Linked DNA regions of Homo sapiens: region 1 is linked to region 2. The links come from fine-mapping of genetic effects on gene expression. A gene starts in region 2. The other region holds a variant in brackets. All regions are shown on one strand. Distances are from middle to middle.

Region 1 (10,284 bases), 32 kb before region 2:
ACTGCTGGGCCCCAGACCCCCATCAGACCAAGCAGGCCCCAACCTACAGGAGGTTGGCTTCAAAGCTGGGCAGGCCAGAGTCAGACAGGAGGGGCTGGGGTGGGGGCGGGACAGGCACAGCCAGCTCTGTGGGTGCCCAGGCAGCCCCTGTTCCCCGAGCTCCAGCTGCCTCGCCTCTTTGGAGTGCCAGCCTTAGTGGGCATTGTGTGCAAGCAACCAGCACCCACGGGGCACCCCGTTGCGGGAGAGGTGGGGGGCGGGTGGAAAAGGGCCTGAATCTGATGAAACGAGTGGCCCTGTTTCCAGCAGGAATAAACTGTTACACTTAATAAACCGGGACGCGATTTCCCCGGGACCCTGACCCTGCCGGCAGCTGTCAGGCGCTCCCTGGGGGTGGAGGCAGGAGAGGGGGTCCTGCCCAGCACCAAGAGCACTTAATCTGCACGGACTCCTCCCTTCACTCTGGGCCTGTGCAGTGACCCTGGCGCACCCCTGCCACCGCCTGGCTCCGTGCTGAGGCTCTGAACTGCGCCAGGCCTCCCCACCACCACCGCAGCCCATGGACTCGGGAGGACACAGAGCCACCCCAGGGGGAAGCGGATACGCCCGGAGGCTCAGGGTGGGGTAAGGCAGGCTTCCCGAAGTGCAGGGGCCGCAGTGCCTGGCACACTCATCTCCCGGGCTGTCCCATGCTGGGGCACCCAAACCCGGGCACCCTGAGAATCCACCCGAGTCCTTCCTCTCTGCCCCAGAGCCTGCCCTGACACCTCCCAGACACTCTCTCCTGTCCCCTCCTGACCCTGGCCAGGCTGACCCTTGGGCACAGGACCAAGTGTCACACTCACCCCTGCCACGCCCAGAGGGCCATGAACTCCTAGCTCCACTCCTGGCTCCTCCCAGGGTGCTCCCATCCCCACCCAGGGACACAAGCCCCTGCTGGCCGCTCAAGACAGCCCTTTGTCCCCAGCTGGCTGGGCTAGAGCCCATTGTTGGCCCTGTGAAGACAGCCTCTGTCCGCCCAGCCCCAGCCGCAGGCACGCCTGGGAGCCAGGCTGAGTAGAGAGGGCAGAGCCTATGGATGCTCAGACCCAGCGGGGGGAGGAGGGCGGGCAGGCAGCGCCACCTCAGTGCCAGCCTGGCACCGCCAGCCTCCCAGCCACTAACCTGAGCCTCGAGATGCCCCCTCCCCCTCAGTCTCCACATGGTGCTCTGTCTGCCTGCCCAACCCTGTTTTCCAGCCCTGGCCAGAGGCAGACCCCAAACTCTCTGATCCCCTCCCTGCCTCTGGGTTCACGTTCCTGGCAGGCCTGCCTTCCTACCAGCTCTCCCGCCCCTTCACCCGCCCTCCCCAGGCACCCCTGTGAGGTCAAGAGGCCTGGGTCAGCAGCACAAGGTGACCTCGGCCTGCCTGGCTCACCATGAGGATGTCTGCAGTGATGGCCCAGTTAGAAAACAGCAGCGTCTCCCCGACGAAGATACAGATCTGCCGGGGAGAAGGCAAAGCCACCATCAGCGGTCCCTCCATCCGCAGCAACCACAGTCTCTGTTCCCTACACACTGGCTGCTGGCAGGGAGCCCACAAAACCTCACACCCCTCCCGGGCCCACATCCATTCATGGGCTATCCAGAGACTTCAAGCCATGCCCACGGCCCTGAGGCACCCAGAGGCCCTGGACAGGCTGTGTGTGGCCAGGCTGGGGATGAGCAGGGGCAGCCAGAGAATAGGAGCCTCCCCGAGGGAAGGGAACATCCAGTAAGTCAGACCGAATGTCCTGTTCCAGACCCTCCCGCGGCCCAGGCCCAGCTCCCCCAGCACCCTTGACCCCCGCTGCACTCACATAGGCTCCTACGATGCTGCTCTTGGCAGCCACGAAGATCAGGCAGATGAAGATGGCAGAGCCCAGCATGCCCACGGCACACACCAGTGGGTCGGCCCGCTGGGTCTTCAGGCGGCACCAGCGCGTGGCTCCTGCCCCCGTGACCACGCCCAGAAATCCCGTAAAGCAGGTGATGGCCCCAAAGATGAGGCTGTGGGGACAGAGGATGGTGGCGCACGAGTTGAGGCGGCTCAGGGCTAAGGCTGAGGGGCTCTCCTGTCCGAGGTCCCTCACCAGCCCTGGGCCCACCCCGCGGGGCCCCACCTGTCCTTGGCCCCACAGGGCGGGCTGTTGCACGTCTCTGCTGTCTTCTGCACAACTTGGGCGCGGTGCAGGTAGAGCGGGATCCACATGCCCAGGGCCCCCGTGGCGAAGGAGACAGCCGACGTGGCCAGGGAGGAGAAGACGTAGCTGCGGCTGGGGAGAGGCCAGGCAGTGACACTGAGCTCAGGGACCTCCTTCACCCCCCTAGGCAGCCCCATGCACTGGGGGAACAGGAGGCCCCCAAATGCCTCGTCTTACAGGCTCCAGGGGTGAGGGTTCAGGCTGCAGGAATAATCGATTCTGGGGCCAAAATGTCCCTCCCAGCACTGAGACAGCAGAGGTGGGGTGTCTGGCTGAGGGTGCTAGTGGGCTGCCCTGCAGGGACAGGCCCTCTCATCTCAGCACCCCTCTCTCTTCCCACCAGACCCCTTCCCGCGGTACTCACTTTCGAATCAGGGCCTTCATATCTCGGAGCCATGAGGTCCGGGCCTTGAGCTGGTCCCCGAGCTGGTCGGCATGACCCCTTTTAGTGGCTGGGACCAGAATGAGGATGAGTGTTCCTGTGATCATGCCCAGGACAGGGGACACCTGCCAGAGAGCAGGAAGTTAGGACACCAGGGCCCAGTGAGCCTCGTCCCTGCTGCAGAAGGAGGGACTCAGGCAAGCCCATGCCTTCTCTGGGCCATAGGCTTCTCCTCTGAGCAGGTATCTGCCCAGCCTTCCTAATTGGGCTGCTGAGAAAAGCTGGGGCTGAGGTCGGTCAAGAGACTGGAGGCTTGAGATGGCCTGTCCAGACCAGGGGCAGGACCAGAGGTGGGAAGGTGCAGGGAAGCCAGACAGACTGAAGGAAGAAGGAGGGGTGGGTGAGTGGAGCAGTGGGTGGATAGATAGAGAAGAGATGGCTAAAGAGGTTGATGGAGAGATGGACAGAGATAGATGGAGGGATGGACGGATAGATGGACAGATGGACAGACGGATGGACAGATGGATGAACGGATAGATAGACGGACGGATGGTGGATGGATGGACAGACGGATGGAAAATAAGTAGATAGCCAGATGGGATGATGACTTTGAGGGAGGAGAAAATTCCTGGAGCAGGTTCCCCACGTAGGTTCCTCAGCCGCAGGGCCCTGGGAAGGTGCTGTTTGGGTATGAAGCGCTGGACTGACAGATCAAGTGGGCTGGCATTTGGTGGGGGCCCGATGCAGGCCCCACAGAGGCTCCCGAGCCCTTTTGGATCTTCCCCGTTTCCAGCCCATTTTCCAGAACAGAACCTCCAAGGCCCCAGGCTTCTCTCCGGGTGGGAGGGTAACACCCTGGCAGCCTGGATTCCATCTCACCAGCCCCGCAGAACACTCTCCCCCATGCCCCCGGGACTGGGAGCCCCTGGGTTGGGGAGTTCCTCTGCCTGCCACCTCCCTCTCGCCTCCCCATCCCCCCACCCCACTAAGAAATTCCACGGAGGCCGCTTCCTTCCTGCTTTTAGGAAAAAACACTTTGTCTTAAGCTTCCGCTCCTCCGAGAGACGAGGGATCTCTGTTTCCTCCGATTGCGCTGTCCTGGGGCCTTGGTAACTTGCCCCAAACCCAGCGAGACCGGAAGTGGCTCCAGACTCTGGGGCCCCCACACAGAGGTCTTGTCCCAGCCTTACCCTAGCACAGCGCCAGGGCTGGAGGCAGGAAGCACCGCCATGGACCTGGAATTTCCTGACGTGGTGGGAGAATCCTTGGTTCTCTCAACCTGGGACTCCCGGGTGGGAGATTCCAACCCTCAGCCTGGGGGCCCCGAGGGCGGCGGGGCTGTGTCTGGCTCTGACACCTCAATCGGGACATCTGAGCGCTCTGATACCTCAATCTGGACTAATCTGGAAGGGCAGGGATTTCAGAGTCCACGCAGCCAGGGGAGGAATCCTGGAGGCCTAGGTCCTAGCCTGGATTACATCTCTGGGCAACCCTGGGGCGAGGTCTGGACCGGAGGGTGTCCTCATGGGAAGGGACGTAGGGCTTACCCGCAATGCCCAGTGCCAGTCTCCGGCTGCCTGCTTCACGCTGGAGCCAGTAATGTAGCCCAGGCCACTGCAGAGAAGAGACACACGTCAGGCTGAGCAGAGACAGGGGCTGGGGACAGGGAGTGCCCGCTGGTCTGCAAGGCAGGCTGCCCACCCTCCCCACCCAGCCAGCTGGCCAGGGAGCAGGTCCAGGAGATTCTCAAAGGCTGACCGCCCACATGTTTAGCTCTCTGAGGACGCCTGCCTGGGCTAGAACCCCAGGGAGTGGGAGAACTCAGAAGTCCAAGGGAACCTTGCCCAGATCCTCACCCAGACCCTGGCATCTCCGGCTCTCACCTGCCCAGTGGGATGGCGAAGTAGAAGACGGACAGCATGAGCGTACGCGTGTTCTTGGTGAAGAGGTCGCCAATGATAGTGGGGGCGATGGTGGAGTAGCTGGCCTCCCCGATGCCCACCAGCCCCCGGGACAGGACCAGCAGCCAGAAGTACTGTGAGGAGGGGTGGAGGATGCTGGGGGACCGACTACCCACCGTCTGCCTGTCATCCCTTGTTCCCACTTTGCTCCCTCCCCCTGCAGGGCCCAGGAGCCAG[G/C]GGAGAGAAGGGTGAGGGTGCTGGTGGGCTGCACCTCCGTAAAGACCACCTCCCCCAGCCACTCCGGGCCTCAGTTTGCCCCTCTGTATAGTGGGTCTGACGGGGCCTGGCCGGCCCAGTGCTGGTATGGGACGGGACTATCCCAGCTTGAGAGTGGTATGGCCCAGGTAGGCCCCCTCTGTCCTCATAGGCACTGGGGACACAAGCCTATGTCTCCACTACTCCACCAACTGGGAGACCCCTCCCTGGTTCTGACTTCACTTCGGGAGCCTCAAGCCACCACCCTCCACTCTGTGTGTCTCTCCCAAGCCGGGTGGCTAGGCCAACCCTGGCAGCACTGAGGGCCCAGTGTGAAGTGGGGAGTGGGGAGTGGGGCGTTGGCAGGGAAGCCCAGGGGACCCAGAGCCCCTCCCCCTGCACACACCAAAGGGCAAAGCCCAGCTGAGTGGGGAAGGGTGGGGCCCTGCCAGCTGCTGGTAGCATGACCCCTTTGATGTGGACCTGCTCCCTCCGTCCCCCAGCTGCCCGGGGCCTGAGAACCCAGCCTGGTCATCTTTCCCCAGCCCCACCCTGGCCACCCATCTGGCCAGCATCGCCCGCGTCCAGCCCTCCCCCGGGTCTCCCTGACTTCCCTCCATCTGCTCACCTCGCTCCTGGCTTGCTGTGCCTGCAGGTGCTGCCTGGGTTGGCCCATCTCTGACCCCTTCATGCTTGTCTCTCTTTTTCCATCTCCCCATTTGCCCTTAGCTCCTCGCCTCTGTTTCTCTTCCTGGGAATCACCTGCCTACAGCCTTGGCCTGTTTTTCTGGTGGGTCATTTGTCTCTTTTGCATTGATTTCTTTTTTTTTCTTCTTTTTTCAGATGGAGTCTTCCTCTGTCACTCAGGCTGGAGTGCAGTGGCGCGATCTCACTCACTGCAACCTCTGCCCCCCGGGTTCAAGCGATTCTCCTGCCTCAGCCTCCTGAGGAGGTGGGATTATAGGCACCCGACACCACACCCAGCTAATTTTTGAATTTTTGTAGAGACGGGGTTTTGCCATGTTGGCCAGGCTGCTCTTGATCTGCCTGCCTCAGCCTCCCAAAGTGCTGGGATTACAGGCGTGGGCCACCACATCCGGCCCCCTGTGTGCTTTTAAAGAACAAACATGAGGCTGGGCATGGGGGCTCGTGCCTATAATCCCAGCACTTTAGGAGGCTGAGGCAGGAGGATTGCTTGAGGCCAGGAGTTCGAGACCAGCCTGGGTAACATAGTGAGACCTCGTCTCTAAAAAAATTTAAAAATAAGATAAAAATCGGGCCAGGCGCAGTGGCTCACGCCTGTAATCCCAGCACTTTGGGAGGCTGAGTCGGGTGGATCACAAGGCCAGGAGTTCAAGACCAGCCTGGCCAAGATGGTGAAGCCCCATCTCTACTAAAAATACAAAAATTAGCCGGGTGTGTTGGCGGGTGCCTGTGATCCCAGCTACTGGAGAGGCTGAGGCAGAGAGTTGCTTGAACTCGGGAGGTGGAGGTTGCAGTGAGCCAAGATTGCGCCACTGCACTCCAGCCTGGGTGACAGAGCAAGACTCCATTTCAAAAAAAAAAAAGAAAAGATAAAAATTAGCGGGATCATGATGCATCCTAGCTACTTAGGAGACTGAGACAGGAGGATCAGTTGAGCCCAGGAAGTCAAGCCTGCAGTGAGCTGTGATCACACCACTGCATATCAGCCTAGGTGACAGAGCGAGACCCTGTCTCAAAAACACATTTAAGGCTGGGCATGGTGGGCTCACATCTGTAATCCCAGCACTTTGGGAAGTCAAGGCAAGTGGATCACCTGAGGTCAGGAGTTCGAGACCAGCCTGGCCAACACGGTGAAAACCCTTCTCTACTAAAAATACAAAAATTAGCTGGGCATGGTGGCAGTCGCCTATAATCGCAGCTACGCGGGAGGCTGAGGCAGGAGAATCGCTTGAACCTGGTGGTGGAGGAGGGGGTGGCAGAGGTTGCAGTGAGCCGAGATTGTGCCACTGCACTCCAGCCTGGGTGAAAGAGCGAAACTCTGTCTCAAAATAAACAATATTTAAAAATAAAATGGACATGAAAGGAAACCCTCCACGCATCTTATCCTGTAACTTGCTTTTGCTCCCTCATTCTTATCTTTTTGAAACCCATTTATGCTGGTTAATTAAGATCTAGTTCATTCTTTTCCTGTTGAGTCTCACAGGGCCCGGCACAGTGGCTCACACCTATAATTCCAGCACTTTAGGAGGCTGAGGCGGTAGGATCACCTGAGGTCAGGAGTTCCAGACTAGCCTTGTCAACATGGTGAAACCCCATCTCTATTAAAAATACAAAAATTAGCTGGGTGTGGTGGCGCGTGCCTGTAATCCCAGCTACTTGGGAGGCTGAGGCAGGAGAATCGCTTGAACCCGGGAGGCGGAGGTTGCAGTGAACCCAGATTGTGCCATTGCACTCCAGCCTGGGCAGCAAGAGCGAAACTCCGTCTAAAAAAAAAAGAAAAGAGTCATACATACACACCATTAATCTGTGCACACCCAGTGATGGTCATTTAGATTGCTTCCTTTTTTTTTTTTTTTGGCTATTCCAGTGCTTCTTACATGCATGTGTCTACAAGCTGGAGTTTCTCTCTTGGGTGTATACCCCAAGTAGAAGGCTGGGCCACGGGAGATAAACAGAGTTTTACAATATCCTGCCGTTTCGCTCTCCAAAGAGCCTCTACCAATTTACACTCCCACCAGCAGGGCTGGAGTCCCCGATTCCCCACAGCTTTGATCACACTTGGTATTGTCAGCCTTTTTAATTGTTGCCAATCTGACGGGTGTGAAATGGGATCTCATTGTTGTTCTAATTTGCATTTCCCTGGTTACTAGAGAAGCTGAGCCCTGTCTCTTCCTACACGTATTGGCCGTTTGGGTGTCTTCTCCTGAAACTGTCTGTAGCTATCCCGTGCCCATTTTTCTACTGAGTTATTTGTCTTTTTCTTGTTGATTTATAGTTCTAGATTTTAAGAGCTTGCTTTTTGCTTTACTTTCCCCTATCGGGACTTTATTCTGCAAGATGGTTTGAAACACAGGCCAAACTTTTCTTTCAATCCAGATGGATAGATAGTTCTTCCCAAACCACTCATTTGAGATGCAACTTTCATCCTACACTAAATCCCCACAGAAATGAGGACTCTGGCTCATTGATCTTAGTCCATCCCTCTGCTGTTTTAGTTACAATCACTGTATTTTGATAACTGAGAGGCAAATCCCCTTTCACTGTTATTTTTTCACAATGTTCTTGGCTGTTCCTGGGCATTTTCTCTGCCAAATTAACTTCAGAATCACATTGCCAAAGTCTACCAGAAACCCCTATGGGATGCAAATTGTGATTTCAGTGCATTTATGGATTCACTGGAGGTGACCTGTTTCTCTCTCTGCCTTTGCTTATCTTCTGTCTCCTTCCACACACCCAGAGATGGACCCGGACCTGGCATGGTGGTCCTAGACTTACTGGTCAGTCCCAGGAGCAGCCTCAGAGGTTGGTGACCAGGGGCCTGGCCAGGGGCAAGACAAGGTCCTGAGGGGCCCTAGAGGCCTCTGGTCCAGTCCTTATTTTTGACTGTGGCCACCAGGCTCTGCTTGCCATCCTGGGCCTGGAGCTTTACCTGACCTGACCCTCCTCTGCGAAGCTGCCCCATGAAGCAAGGATGTCCTTGGCAAACCTGCTGATTCTCTCTGCCCTCCCTCCAATGTCCCCACCATCAACCCAAATCTGACCCCGCCATTGTTCTTCAAACTTTTCCAGAGCTCAGCACTGCCACAGAAGGAAGCCCAGGCCCTCTAGCCTGGCATTCAAGGTTCTCCATGACCCAGTCCCTGCTTTCTTTCCAGTGAAAATGCAATCCTCAATCTTTCTTTCTTTTTCTTTTTTTTTTTTTGAGATGGAGTTTTGCTCTTGTCACCCAGGCTGGAGTGCAGTGGTGCGATCTCTGCTCACTGCAACCTCTGCCTTCGAGGTTCAAGCGATTCTCCTGCCTCAGCCTCCCAAGTAGCTGGGATTATAGGCATGCACCACCATGCCTGGCTAATTTTTGTATTTTTAGTAGAGATGGGGTTTCTCCATGTTGGCCAGGCTGGTCTCGAACTCCTGACCTCAGGGGATCCACCCGCCTTGGCCTTCCAAAGTGCTGGGATTACAGGCATGAACCATCACACCTGGCCCAATCCTCAATCTTTCAACACACTCCACCATTTCTGCATCAGTGGGTTGGCTCCCTCTGCCCATGCTACCTTCACCAAAAGGCCTGATCTCACAGTCCTGCCTGCCCAGCGCAAACGCCACCTCCTCCAGGAAGCCCTCCCTGACCCCACGGATTTCAAGAGACTGTTGTCTCTTTAGTGAGGACTCTCAGCACTTTTTCTACACCTCTTGAAGGCTCTGAACACAGGAGTTCCTGTCAAATCTTCCTACCCCGAAGCCTGGGTGCTCCCAAGGACAGGGCTATCCTGAAAGCTCCTTGAAGACAGATCATGCTCTCCCCTTCTTCCTTCATCTTTCTCTATAGCAGCCGGCATGTGATTGCCACTCTCTGCTTGAATACGCCTCGAGATGGGGAACTCACTACCTCACAAGGCAACAGTCTCATCTTTGGAAGGAGGAACAGAAACAATGACTGGCTGAGCACTCGCCGTGTTCCAGGGTCTGGACCTTCACAGCTCAGCTACTTCTCAAGGGAAACCTTCGAGTTGGGAAGTATTATCCCCATTTTAAAGATGAGGAAACTGAGGCTCAGAGACATTAAGTTCCTCCAGGTCACAAAGCTGAGTAGGAAACAAAGTTGGGATATTCAAGCCCAGGCCTGTGGGAGCTAAATGAGAAGACTCTTGTTTGTGTTGAATTGATATTTGCTTCTCTGGGATGTCGATCTAAGAAGTCAGCTGGTCATCAGACCAAGCACAAACTGAGCAAGAACCAGAGAGGGGTAGTGACTCCCCCAGGGTCACACAGCCAGATAATGGCAGAGCCAGGGCTAGGACTCAAGGCCCTCACTCCTAGGCCAGACTTGTTCTTTGCATCCATCCCAAATCAGAGGGATGCTCAGAAAGAGTCAGGAGGCCACATGGGCTGGAAGGCTCTCAGGTCAGGCCAGCGTGGGGAAGGCCCCAGCCGCAGGGCTGGTTTATAAAAATACCCGAAGACCACCTGTCCTTCTGCACTGGGAAGACAGTGGGGTTCAAGCAAAGGAGCTGGAAGCCCTGGGCTGGATTCTTCAACAGGCCAATAAGACTAGCCACTCGCTGGAGGGACCAGGACACAGGGGTCGGGGAGAAGCCGAGCCGGGCCTCACCTGCTGGGGAATGAAGGAGCTGGAGAAGGTGACGGCCGACCAGAAGAAAATGCCGCAGCTGAGAATCACCTTCCTGTTGAAGCGGTCGCCCAGGTAGCCGAAGATGGGGGCAGCCACCATGAAGCTACAGATGAACACTGCAGGGAGAGGAGAGCTTGAGGGGGGGCCCAGGTCCCTGCGCCCCGGCCTCCCGGCCCATTTCACTCC
Region 2 (10,284 bases):
AGCAGAGCTAGTTAGAGGGGGCGTGAGACCCCCGTCTGAGGGACTCCCTCCTTCTCCTGACCTTGCAGCTAGGAGTGGGCTCAGAATGCAGAGTGGGTGGCTGCTAGGGACCATAGGAGCAGGAGCCATGTGCCCTAGGGGAGCTCAAACTGCCTTGGCTCAATTAAACTGAAATTCATCTACCCAAAGGGCTCTTGCCTAAGCCAGCAGAGCCTCTGCGTTCCCAGGCCAGAAGCAAGGGTCATGCCCCTACCTCCACCTGGGGCTCCTGGGACTGGAGAGGATGCCGCTCTGGCTGGTGTGGCCCTGCTCCGCCCCCCGTGTGACCTTGGGTAAGTGTCTTTGTTCTCTGGATGGCTGTGTTCCCATCTGCGCAAGGAGGTGCAAGGAAGGATTTAGAAGAGGTTTCTGGGCTACCTCAATTTCATCCAATTGAAGCAACGCTCGGTAAGAAGAGCAAGCACAGGAGCCTGGCCCTCCTCACCCGCTCTGAGGCCTGCTGCCCTCAGGGGGTTCTCATGGGGCGGAGGAGAGGCCGTAATTAGCAGGTTCACCGGGTGGCGCTGGGGCAGAAGCTACTAGAGTTCCCAGGATGGAGACCAGCCCTGTGGAGAAGGGAGGGGCTTGCAAAGGTGTCCTGAAAGGACTGTCATAAACAGAACAAAAAACAGAACAACAACAACAAAAATCCCAGGAAAGGCATCGTGGCCAGCTTGAGCAGAGGCATGAAGGAGAAGGCAGCTGGCACTCGTGAAGCCCTCCTAGGAATCTGGCCCCGTCCCAGGTGCTCGAGATACAGTCTCATTTATCCCACGCAACCCGGGAGGCAGGCGGGAGGGGAATGATCACACAGAAGGCTCAGGTGATGTCTTCAAGGTCACACGGCTGGGAAGCTGAAGAGCCTTGGCTCGAACTCTGGCAACAAAGACTCTAGACCTGCACTGTCCACTCTAGTGGCCCCTGGCCACCGTGATATTGACATGTGCTGTGAATGGAAAATACACATACTGGGTTTCAAAGACTTAGTATGAAAAGGGAGGCAAAATATCCCATTAACAACATACATATGTGTGTGTGTGTATAATTTTTTTTTTTTTTTTGAGACAGAGCCTCACTCTGTCACCCAGGCTGGAGTACAGTGGCGCGATCTTGGCTCAATGCAACCTCCACCTCCTGGGTTCAAGCGATTATCCTGCCTCAGCCTCCCGAGTAGCTGGGACTACAGGTGTGCACCACCATGCTAGCTAATTTTTGTATTTACTTTAGTAGAGATGGGGGGTTTCACCATGTTGACCAGGCTGGTCTCGAACTTCCGACCTCAGGTGATCCACCCGCCTCGACCTCCCAAAGTGCTGGGTTTACAGGCGTGAGCCACCGCGCCCAGCCCTAACAACTTTTATATTGATTACATGTTGAAATATGTTGGATATATTGAGTTAAATAAAATATATTATGAATTAATCACACCTATTTCTTGTACTATTTTAGTCCGGCTACCAGAAAATTTGACAGGAATATGTGGCTTACATTATATTTCTTTTGGACAAAGCTGGTCTACACTATGAAAAAACAGATTTAAAGGACAGAGTTAAAGAAGGAGAGTGGGACCTCCCTTCCATCTTTGGTGGGGAGCTGGGGCCAGGTAGGTGCAAGCATCAAAGACTGAGCAATTGAGTCTCTGCATCCCCATCTCTGTCCCAGCTGGGCCAGCCAGCAACAGGTGCACTCAGGCCTGGGATGAGCACTCCCCTGGCCCTAGCACATCAAGCCATAGTAGTTACCATAGAGATAATAAATATTCCTAAAAACTGAACTTGGGGAAGTGGAGATGGGGAAATCTACCATAGAGAGAGGGGCAACCAGGCTTATCCGGAGAGGAAACCTGTGTCTGTTGTGTGTTGGGGGTGGGGTGGTGTGTGAGCTCCCACTCCAGGCCAGGAGAGGGAGGGAGGCACAGCCCAGGCAAGTGTTTGCACAGGACTTTCCGGGCCTTCCTCCCTAACTGCCCCACGCCCCTCTTAGCCACCACTCCCCACCTCCCTTTACCAATTCACCACAAATTTCCTATCTCATTCCCCCATGCTGACAATCTGACTCAGAGACCTGAGTAGAAGTGGGAGCAGATAAGTGCCAGCCCTCCCTGATCCCACCCTCTCTGGCTCTGCCCCTGGCAGAGGCAGTTCCCCTAAGAACGTCAAAGGGGGTGGTCTGGGGCCAGAAAAAAAACAAGTTGGAGAGCGCTACAGTGCCAGAAGTAGTACCATTCCTTCTTCAGCTGAGAAAGGGTGGGAAGACCTCCTCCCAGGCAGAGCCTTACTGTTAGAGCTAACACCAGCTTTGCCAGTCACTTTCCTGGCCATCTTGAACGGGGGCTGTACAGGGACATTGGTCCCCCTATCTGTGTACAGAAGCCTTTTGTGAACTGACTACAGGTCCCAGGTATTCTCTGATTTCTCCCCCAAAGGATGGCGCTTATGCTCCCAGGTCCCCGGCAGCATGGTGCATGCGTGACAGCGGCTGGCGTTTTTGGGAGGTGCTCAATATTCCTGCTCTCTAGACCAAAGTAAGTTTCTCTTTGGGATAGCTCGACCCAGAAACTGATGCCACTGGTACCCACTTCCAATTTCCTCCAGCGGAAGGACAGAGAGCCAAGGGGGGTTGAAAGCAGGAATGGGGGGAGGGGGAAGCCTCTGCCCTCCCATCAGAATTCTTCCCTTCCATTTGACACAAAACTCCATTCAACAGACGGGGAGACTGAGGCCCAGAGAAGGCACCAGGTGGCATGTGGTTTATGCCCGGGCTCTCTTCCCTCAATTGCCGCAAAGTTCTCTTTAGAGTCTGTCCAAAAATAAATCCTTCCCTCTCTCCTATCTCCTCTCTCTCTCTGTTGTGTGTGTGTTTGATAGCTCCAGATTTTACTAAGCTATAGTTACGCAGGTTCTGGGCCAGCATGCCAGGCACACAGTACTGCTCTCCTCCTGCAGGGAGCCCCTTCCTATGCCAGTCTGGCCAAAGTCCTTCCCTCTCAAAGCTCCACCATTCCCAACCAGTAGCAGCTCAGTCTAGGGCAAATTCTTACCCCTAGACCCACCCCTAATTGCTGGGGAAGGGAGCCAGCAGAAGGCAATTCCAGAACCACGTGCGTCCCCCAAAGGCCCAATGATCAATCAACTCACAAACGGGCAAACAGACCTAAACACACGCTGAGACTGGCCCAAGGTCACACACCAAGCACATTAGGAGCAAAGCTGGGGCTAGAACCCAGTTGTTCTATCGATCCCAATCCCGTCCCCAAGGCTGATTCCCAGAGATGCTCCCTGAGGATGAGGCTCCACGTCTCTAGCTCCAGAGGCCTGCGCCCTACCCTACACCCCAAGCACCATAGAGCAGGGGGAGGCGTCTCCAGGCCTCTGTACAGGGCCAGCTGCAAACCGCAGCCTGGGTCCCCAGGCGCCGCGGACCCGCCCCGCCCCTCCCTCCGCTCCCCGCAGCCCGGAGCCTTTGTCAGCCACGCGCTCACACACAACCGCGCCGCCACGCGCACACACACCCGGTCTCCCTAGCGCACACCCGCAAGGGGCGCGCGCACTCGCCGCACGCACGCAGGGGGGTGGAGGCGGCGGAGAAAGGAAGGAACTGACGGGCCATGGACGGACAGACGACCTGGGCTGGGGGAAGGGAAGGGAAGGAGGCCCGGGAACCGGCAGCTGGGGTCGGAGGGGGCGCAGAGACAAGGAGACAGAGAGACGCAGAGGAGACTCTTGGAGAGGAGGACAACGGATGGGCCGTCAAGGGCTGGAGAGGACGCGCGGGCTGCTCCAGGGGTGGGGACTCCTCTATCCCTTGGCCCCGGGTGTGTATGAGCGGGGAGCTGGATTGTACCCGTGGTGCACGGAGGCATCCCTTGCCCAGTTGTGCCTGAGCAGAGGGTCCGTAGGGACCTCACGTAGGGCCTGGAGATAGCAGGCCTGAGACCAAAAGCTCTCTGGGGTACCTCCCTCGAGGCGGGTGGTGGGATGGGGTGGGGTCTTGGTCCTCGGGCTGGGTGGGGCACTCGCTCACCTGCCACGGTGTACCTGTCCAGGTAGTTGAGCACGTTGCCCAAGCTGAGGATGGCGGCGGCTGCCCCCCGCCCGCGGCCCAAGCTGGCCGGTTTGGGCTGCTGAGCGCCGGGGCCCTTTGCAGTAGCTGCGCAGCCGGGGGTGCCGGGGGTGCCGGGGGGTCCGGTCGGGGCCCGCCTTACGCTGCCCGACAGCGTCTGCACCTCATCGCCCGCGGCCGAGACTCCAGCGCCGCCCGCGCCCCGCGCCCCGCAGCAACCGCTACCGCCAGCCCCTCGCTGCGCCCCCCGGCGCCGGCGCCGCCGCTCCGCGTCCGCCTCCTCCTCCTCCGCGCCGCCCGCCGCCGCCGAGGCGCATTCCAGGCACATCATGCCGGCCCGGATCGGGGCGGCGGGGGGCGCGGGGGGCGCGGGGCCCAGGCTGGGCCCGCTCAGCGCGTGCGTGCGCCGCGGAGCCGCCACTGCACCATCCTGGTCGGGCCCCGTCGGCTCCTGCGCTCCGGCCCCGGCTGCGGCGCTGCCACCGCTCAGCTCGCTGCGCCTCGTTCGCCGCCGCGGCTCTGACAGCTGCGGCCCGGCCCCGCCCACCAGGCCCGCGCCCAATCAGCTCCGGGCTCGGGCCACAGCCCCGCCCCGCACGTGCTGCCCTGGGGGTGGGGGGCCCGGGGACTGGGGGCCCGGGCGGCAGAGCCCCTCCTGCCAATGGGGGCGCAGTCACGCCGGGGCCGACCGGCCGCGAACGCCCGCGGGGAGCGGGAGAGGGTTTGCTCTGGCTACGGAGCTGGGAGCAGGGTGCTGGTGACGGGGCTCCCAGCACCTACTCAGTACCCTTCACCCAACCCCTGCCTCGGGCGTGGACTCCCGGCGGAGGCTCTGGGAGCCGGGCTGAGGGCTTGAGCCTAGCGTATCTGGGAGAACTGGAGAGAGGAGTCTCAGATGGCTAAAGTCAGGGGCGCCAGTTGGAGAGCCGGTGGCTCCTCCGATACTCACACGCCCGGATTTAACCAGTTCAGGGAGGGCCCAGAACCTAGACCTCCACCAGTCATGGTGGGCTGTGTCTCCCACCTCCCCAGGGCAACCCAGATCCAGCCCCCAACCTACCCCGGGCCCATTCCTGTGTGGGCACCCGGACCCTACCCTTGCCCCACAGAGTGGCCCGCAGCCCCTGGCGGGGAGAGCAAGGGCTGTGATTGGGGCCCAACAGAAACAGGATATTCAGAAGGGGCTTTCCCTCCTGAGGGACCACATCTCCAAGCTTCAGACTTCCAGGTATGTGCTAGAGAGGGTACAAAGCCCCCAGTGGCAGACAGGAGGCTGGGTCCTAGCTCAGCTCTGCCCTGGTGTGTGGCATGATCCTGAACATGACACCCACTCTCTGGGCCTCCATTTCTGTATCTGGGGGCAGATGGCAGGATGGGATTCAGTCTGGAAATCCACGGGTGGTCACCTCCCCTTGGTGGGACGGGGCGGGGGTCTGCCTCCTATGGAGAGTGGTTGGGGTGCTTCTGTGTTCCTGACATCCCATCACGGTTTCACCCCTCCTTAGAGGTGCTGTGGCTCTGTGACGATCTCCCCCTTCCCTCCCCCATTCACCTGTTTGGGGAATTAAAATCGAAATTAAAATCCTGTATAAAGTGCAGAGGACAGAATGTTAGAACTGGACAAACCCTCGGAAACCAGTTAATCATTCCCTGTGTTTCACAGACAAGTCCCAGGGCACGGACGTGACCCATTACGAACAGGCAGTGAAGCTGTGGCAGGGCTGGAGCTGCCCCAGGCTCTGGCATCATCCCCGAGGGCTGGAGCTCACTCCCCGCTAGAGGCTTTTCCGGACCCCACGTCCACAGGCAGGTGCATCTGGTGAAGCTTTCGGCCACAGTGAGTCATGGCATAGCCAACGGGTGACACAGCACGAGGCACCCCCCCCGCCCCCCTCCACTGTCTCTTGTGAGCAGAGTTAATCCCCAAGCTGGTGTTTCTTGGCGCCTTCGAGGTGTATTTTAAATTCTGCAAAGTGACTAAAAATATGCTTCAGCGTGCTGGGTATGAATGACTGTGACGGGAGGGTTAGGAAAACAGATTTCATTCTCAAAGTTGCCTGCTGCCTCTTTCCAGCTCGCTGAGCTCAGGCCTGCAAAGGCGGATGGGGGGAGTTCCCCATGGTGGCCTGGCATGACGGGTGATTAACAAACAAGGACAGAGAGCTAGGAGCTCCGTGGGGCTAGAACCCGGCCCCAGCAATGATCTCGTAAGTGTGTGATGGTGCCAGCAGGTGGACAGAGTCCAGCTGTGGGAGGCTGCCCAGCTGTGGAACTGTGTCTAGTGGTGAAGGAGGCACAACCACAACTCTAGACCCAAGCCCAGGGTCCCCTTCCCGTGCCCCAAAACTCCTCATCCCTTTGGCCACAGTCCTGTCCAGGTGGACACTTTCGGCCTTGACAGAAAGGGGAGCATTCTCTTTCTGCTGCCTTCCCTTTTCACCACTGGGAAGGTCCCAGAGCAGGGGAAGAGGGTGGCATGAGCCTTTCAAACCTGGGGGACCTCTGAGCTGCCACCAAGCAAGCCAGCCCTTCCCACTGTGTTTCACTGGGGTTTCAACTCAAAGGCAGCCTCTAGAATAAGTCCTTGTGTGGGATAAGGGGCCACCAAGGGCAGAGGGACAGGGAGGACAAGAAGCCCTTTCTGGTTGTGCAGCCCAGGACAAATCCCTACAGCCTTCTGAGAAGCTCTGGCAGTAACCTGGGGCTGTCAGACAGAGGACTGGTAGGGTTCTTTCCTCCATCTCGCCAATGAAGAAACTGAGGCCCAGGGAAAAGAAGTAATTTGCCCAAGGTCGAACACCTGGTAAATGACAGTGCATGGACTAAACCCAGGTGTGTTTACCCTCTAATCCAGCACTTCCTCCACTGCACGCTGCCCTCAGACTGGGCGGGATTCTGTTTCTTCATCAGTATAACAGGAGGCTGAACTCCGTGGCTAAAGGACCTTCTGATATTCATTCATTAGGTCTAGATCACAGCTTCAAAACAAATGGGGGCCGGCGTGGTGGCTCATACCTGTAATGCCAGCACTTTGGGAGGCCGAGGTGGGTGGATCACCTGAGGTCAGGAGTTCGAGACCAGCCTGGCCAACATGGTGAAACCCGGTCTCTACTAAAAATACAAAAATTAGCCAGGCGTGGTGGGGCGCGCCTGTAATCCCAGCTACTTAGGAGGCTGAGGCAGGAGAATTGCTTGAACTTGGGAGGCAGAGGTTGCAGTGAGCCAAGATCATGCCACTGCACTCCAGCCTCGGTGACAGAGTGAGACTCCATCTCAAAAACAAAAACAAAAACAAAAAACAAAAGTGGGGGGAAAAAAAGAAAAGAACACACACAAAAAAGAAAAAAATGGGGCACAGAACATTAATGGCCATTATTCAAAGAGCAGTCATACTTGGGAAGTAGTGGGATAAACACAGAAAAGTAGGTTTCCTTAGGGACTTTTGAGAGCCTTTACTATGAGAATACATGCTCTGAGTCTCCCAGAGGGAGATATAGGATGCCACGTTCCCAGGTGTGTGTGACCACAGAATGTCTTGCAAGACGAGAGCTCTGCAGGACACACTCTGAGAAACACTGGCCTAGAATGCACTTGCTCCTCCTTGGCTGGTAATTGGGAGCTCAGCCCATCTGCCCTCTGCCCATCCTCCCACATGGGAGTGTCTCCAGGGCTCAGGCCTCGGTTGTTTCCCTTCCCCCTTGGCAGCCTCTCACCTAGGCCTGAAATTTACTTTTTTTGAAAAAATTTTTAAGAGGCAGGGTCTCTCTCTGTCACCCAGGCTGGAACGCAGTGGTGCAATCATAGCTCATCATAACTTTGACCTCTTGGGCTCAAGGGATCCTCCTTAAGAAGGGGCTTCCTGATGCTGGGCGCGGTGGCTCATGCCTGTAATCCCAGCACTTTGGGAGGCCAAGGCGAGCAGATCACTTGAGGTCAGGAATTCAAGATCAGCCTAGCCAACATGGAGAAACCCCATCTCTAGTGAAAACACAAAAATTAGCTGGGTGTGGTGGCATGCGCCTGTCATCCCAGCTACTTGGGAGGAGAATTGCTTGAACCCAGGAGGCGGAGGTTGTAGTGAGCCGAGATCACACCACTGCACTCCAGCGTGGGTGACAGAGTGAGACTCTGTCTCAAAACAACAACAACAACAAAAAACAAAAAAACAAAAAACAAAAAAAAGAGAGCCAAGACAGACAGGAGCAAAGACAGAGAAACGGAGACTTTCATATTCCAGCCTGGGTGACAGAGCAAGACTCCATCTCAGGAAGAAAAAAATAATAATAAAAAATAAAAATATATATATAAAAAAGAAGAGTCTTCCTCTCCTGAGGATCCACACCTCAGCTTCCCAAAAGGCTGGGACTATAAGCGTGCACCACCACACCCAGCAATTTTTTTTTTAGGAAAAAGGTCTCACTATGTTGACCAGGCTGGTCTCAAACTCTAGGGCTCAAGTGATCCTCCCACCTCAGCCTACCAAAATGCTGGGGTTAGAGGGGTGAGCACCATGTGCAGCTGTGGCCTCAACTTTCAATGATCATCCATGTGACTATGACACCCCAACCTCCATCTCTAGACAGGGCCTCATCTCCAAACACGAGATCCATATGCAGCCTCCTACACGTGCCCCCCACCAGATATCCCACATGTACCTTAGGCTCAGCACATTTGAAACTGAACTTGTCATCCTTCCCCCAACCTGCTCCCACTCTGGTATCATTTATCTTTTGTCAAAAACACCATCATCCACACTGTCGCCAAGCAGAAAGCCTGGGAGCCATGTGGGGCTCCTTCTCCTCAACAGCCACATCTAAGGGCTTTCAATTTCCTCTCTTGAACATCTCCCCACGTCCACATTGCCCACTGGCTTAGCTCAGGCCTCTCTGTGTCTTACCTGGACCCTTGTAAAGCTCAACATTACCTGTTCCCACATCCCCCTCCAGTTTTGTTTGTTTGTTTTTTGAGACGGAGTCCTGCTCTGTCACCCAGGCTGGAGTGCAATGGCACAATCTCGGCTCACTGCAACCTCTGCCTCCTGGGTTCAAGCAATTCTCCTGCCTCAGCCTCCTGAGTAGCTGGGATTACAGGTGTGCACCACCATGCCCGGCTAATTTTTTTTATTTTTAGTAGAGACGGGGTTTCATCATGTTGGCCAGGCTGGTCTCGAACTCCTGGCCTCAAGTGATCCACCCACCTTGGCATCCCAAAGTGCTGGGATTACAGGCGTGAGCCACTGTGCTCGGCCGGCCCTCCAGTCGTTTCTCCATATTGCTTATCAGTCACTTTCTGAATCCCACAAAGGACCTCATCACTACCTTGAGCAAAACCTTTCTAAGGCTCTTCACTGGCTATAGGGTTAAAAATGTCTACGTTCCTGGCCGGGCGCAGTGACTCACGCCTGTAATCCCAGCACTTCGGGAAGCCGAGGCGGGCGGATCACGAGGTCAGGAGATCGAGACAATCCTGGCTAACATGGTGAAACCCTGTCTCTACTAAAAAATACAAAAAATTAGCTGGGCGTGGTGGTGGGCGCCTGTTGTCCCATCTACTCGGGAGGCTGAGGCAGGAGAATGGCGTGAACCCAGGAGGCGGAGCTTGCAGTGAGCCGAGATCGCGCCACTGCACTCCAGTCTGGGTGACAGAGCGAGACTCTGTTTCAAAAAAAAAAACTACATTCCTTAATGATCTCCAAGAGCCTTCACAACTTTTCACAACCCATGACAATCTCCAGCCTCAGATCCTACGGCCCATCTCTCAAAATTACCCTCTGCCACACTGAACATGGAGCTTCTTGAACTCACAGTTATAATACTTCCTGGAGCCTGGGGGAGGGGCAAGAATTGGGGCACTATTCTATAGCCCCTGTCCTCCTATCAACAAAAAAGCCCTTGTCCCACTAGCACAGCGATGATTCAGGACCATGGAGAGCATCCCGCGTGCAACCCCTGACCCCGACCCTGACTGAGGCATGCTCTGCCTGTGTGGCCTATTCACTCTTCCCACTTGTCCTTCAGGAACCCAGCACAGAAACAGCTTCCTCCGGGAAGCCTTCCCCGGCCCACCTGAACAACCATTTCCTCCTCTGGGCTATTGAGTAACCTGTGTATCCTTCCATCACACCAACACTGTGCTGATTTTTGTCTGTGCAAGAATCTGTCCCCCGCCCTTCACCAACAGACC

Evidence for each region.
Region 1: its variant is fine-mapped to the expression of SPNS2 in whole blood (TOPMed, PIP above 0.99).

Annotation. Positions count from the first base shown.
Region 1 is chr17:4,524,987-4,535,270 of GRCh38, reverse strand. SPNS2 (SPNS lysolipid transporter 2, sphingosine-1-phosphate) reads right to left here. Exons shown (of 13, transcript NM_001124758.3): 3 at 10,078-10,214; 4 at 4,488-4,639; 5 at 4,152-4,218; 6 at 2,587-2,729; 7 at 2,142-2,294; 8 at 1,839-2,028; 9 at 1,418-1,483. Among named protein-coding and RNA genes, the nearest start is that of MYBBP1A, 25 kb to the left of the region's middle. The variant G/C (reference allele first, on the strand shown) is at 4,743.
Region 2 is chr17:4,493,196-4,503,479 of GRCh38, reverse strand. It overlaps SPNS2 (SPNS lysolipid transporter 2, sphingosine-1-phosphate), which reads right to left and starts at 4,599. Exons shown (of 13, transcript NM_001124758.3): 1 at 4,063-4,599. The coding sequence starts at 4,432. It overlaps SPNS2-AS1 (SPNS2 antisense RNA 1), which reads left to right and starts at 4,745. Exons shown (of 3, transcript XR_001752763.2): 1 at 4,745-5,329; 2 at 5,765-5,938. RefSeq lists enhancers at 1-376, 377-893, 3,165-3,799, 3,800-4,435 and silencers at 4,477-4,526, 4,587-4,736, 4,747-4,806.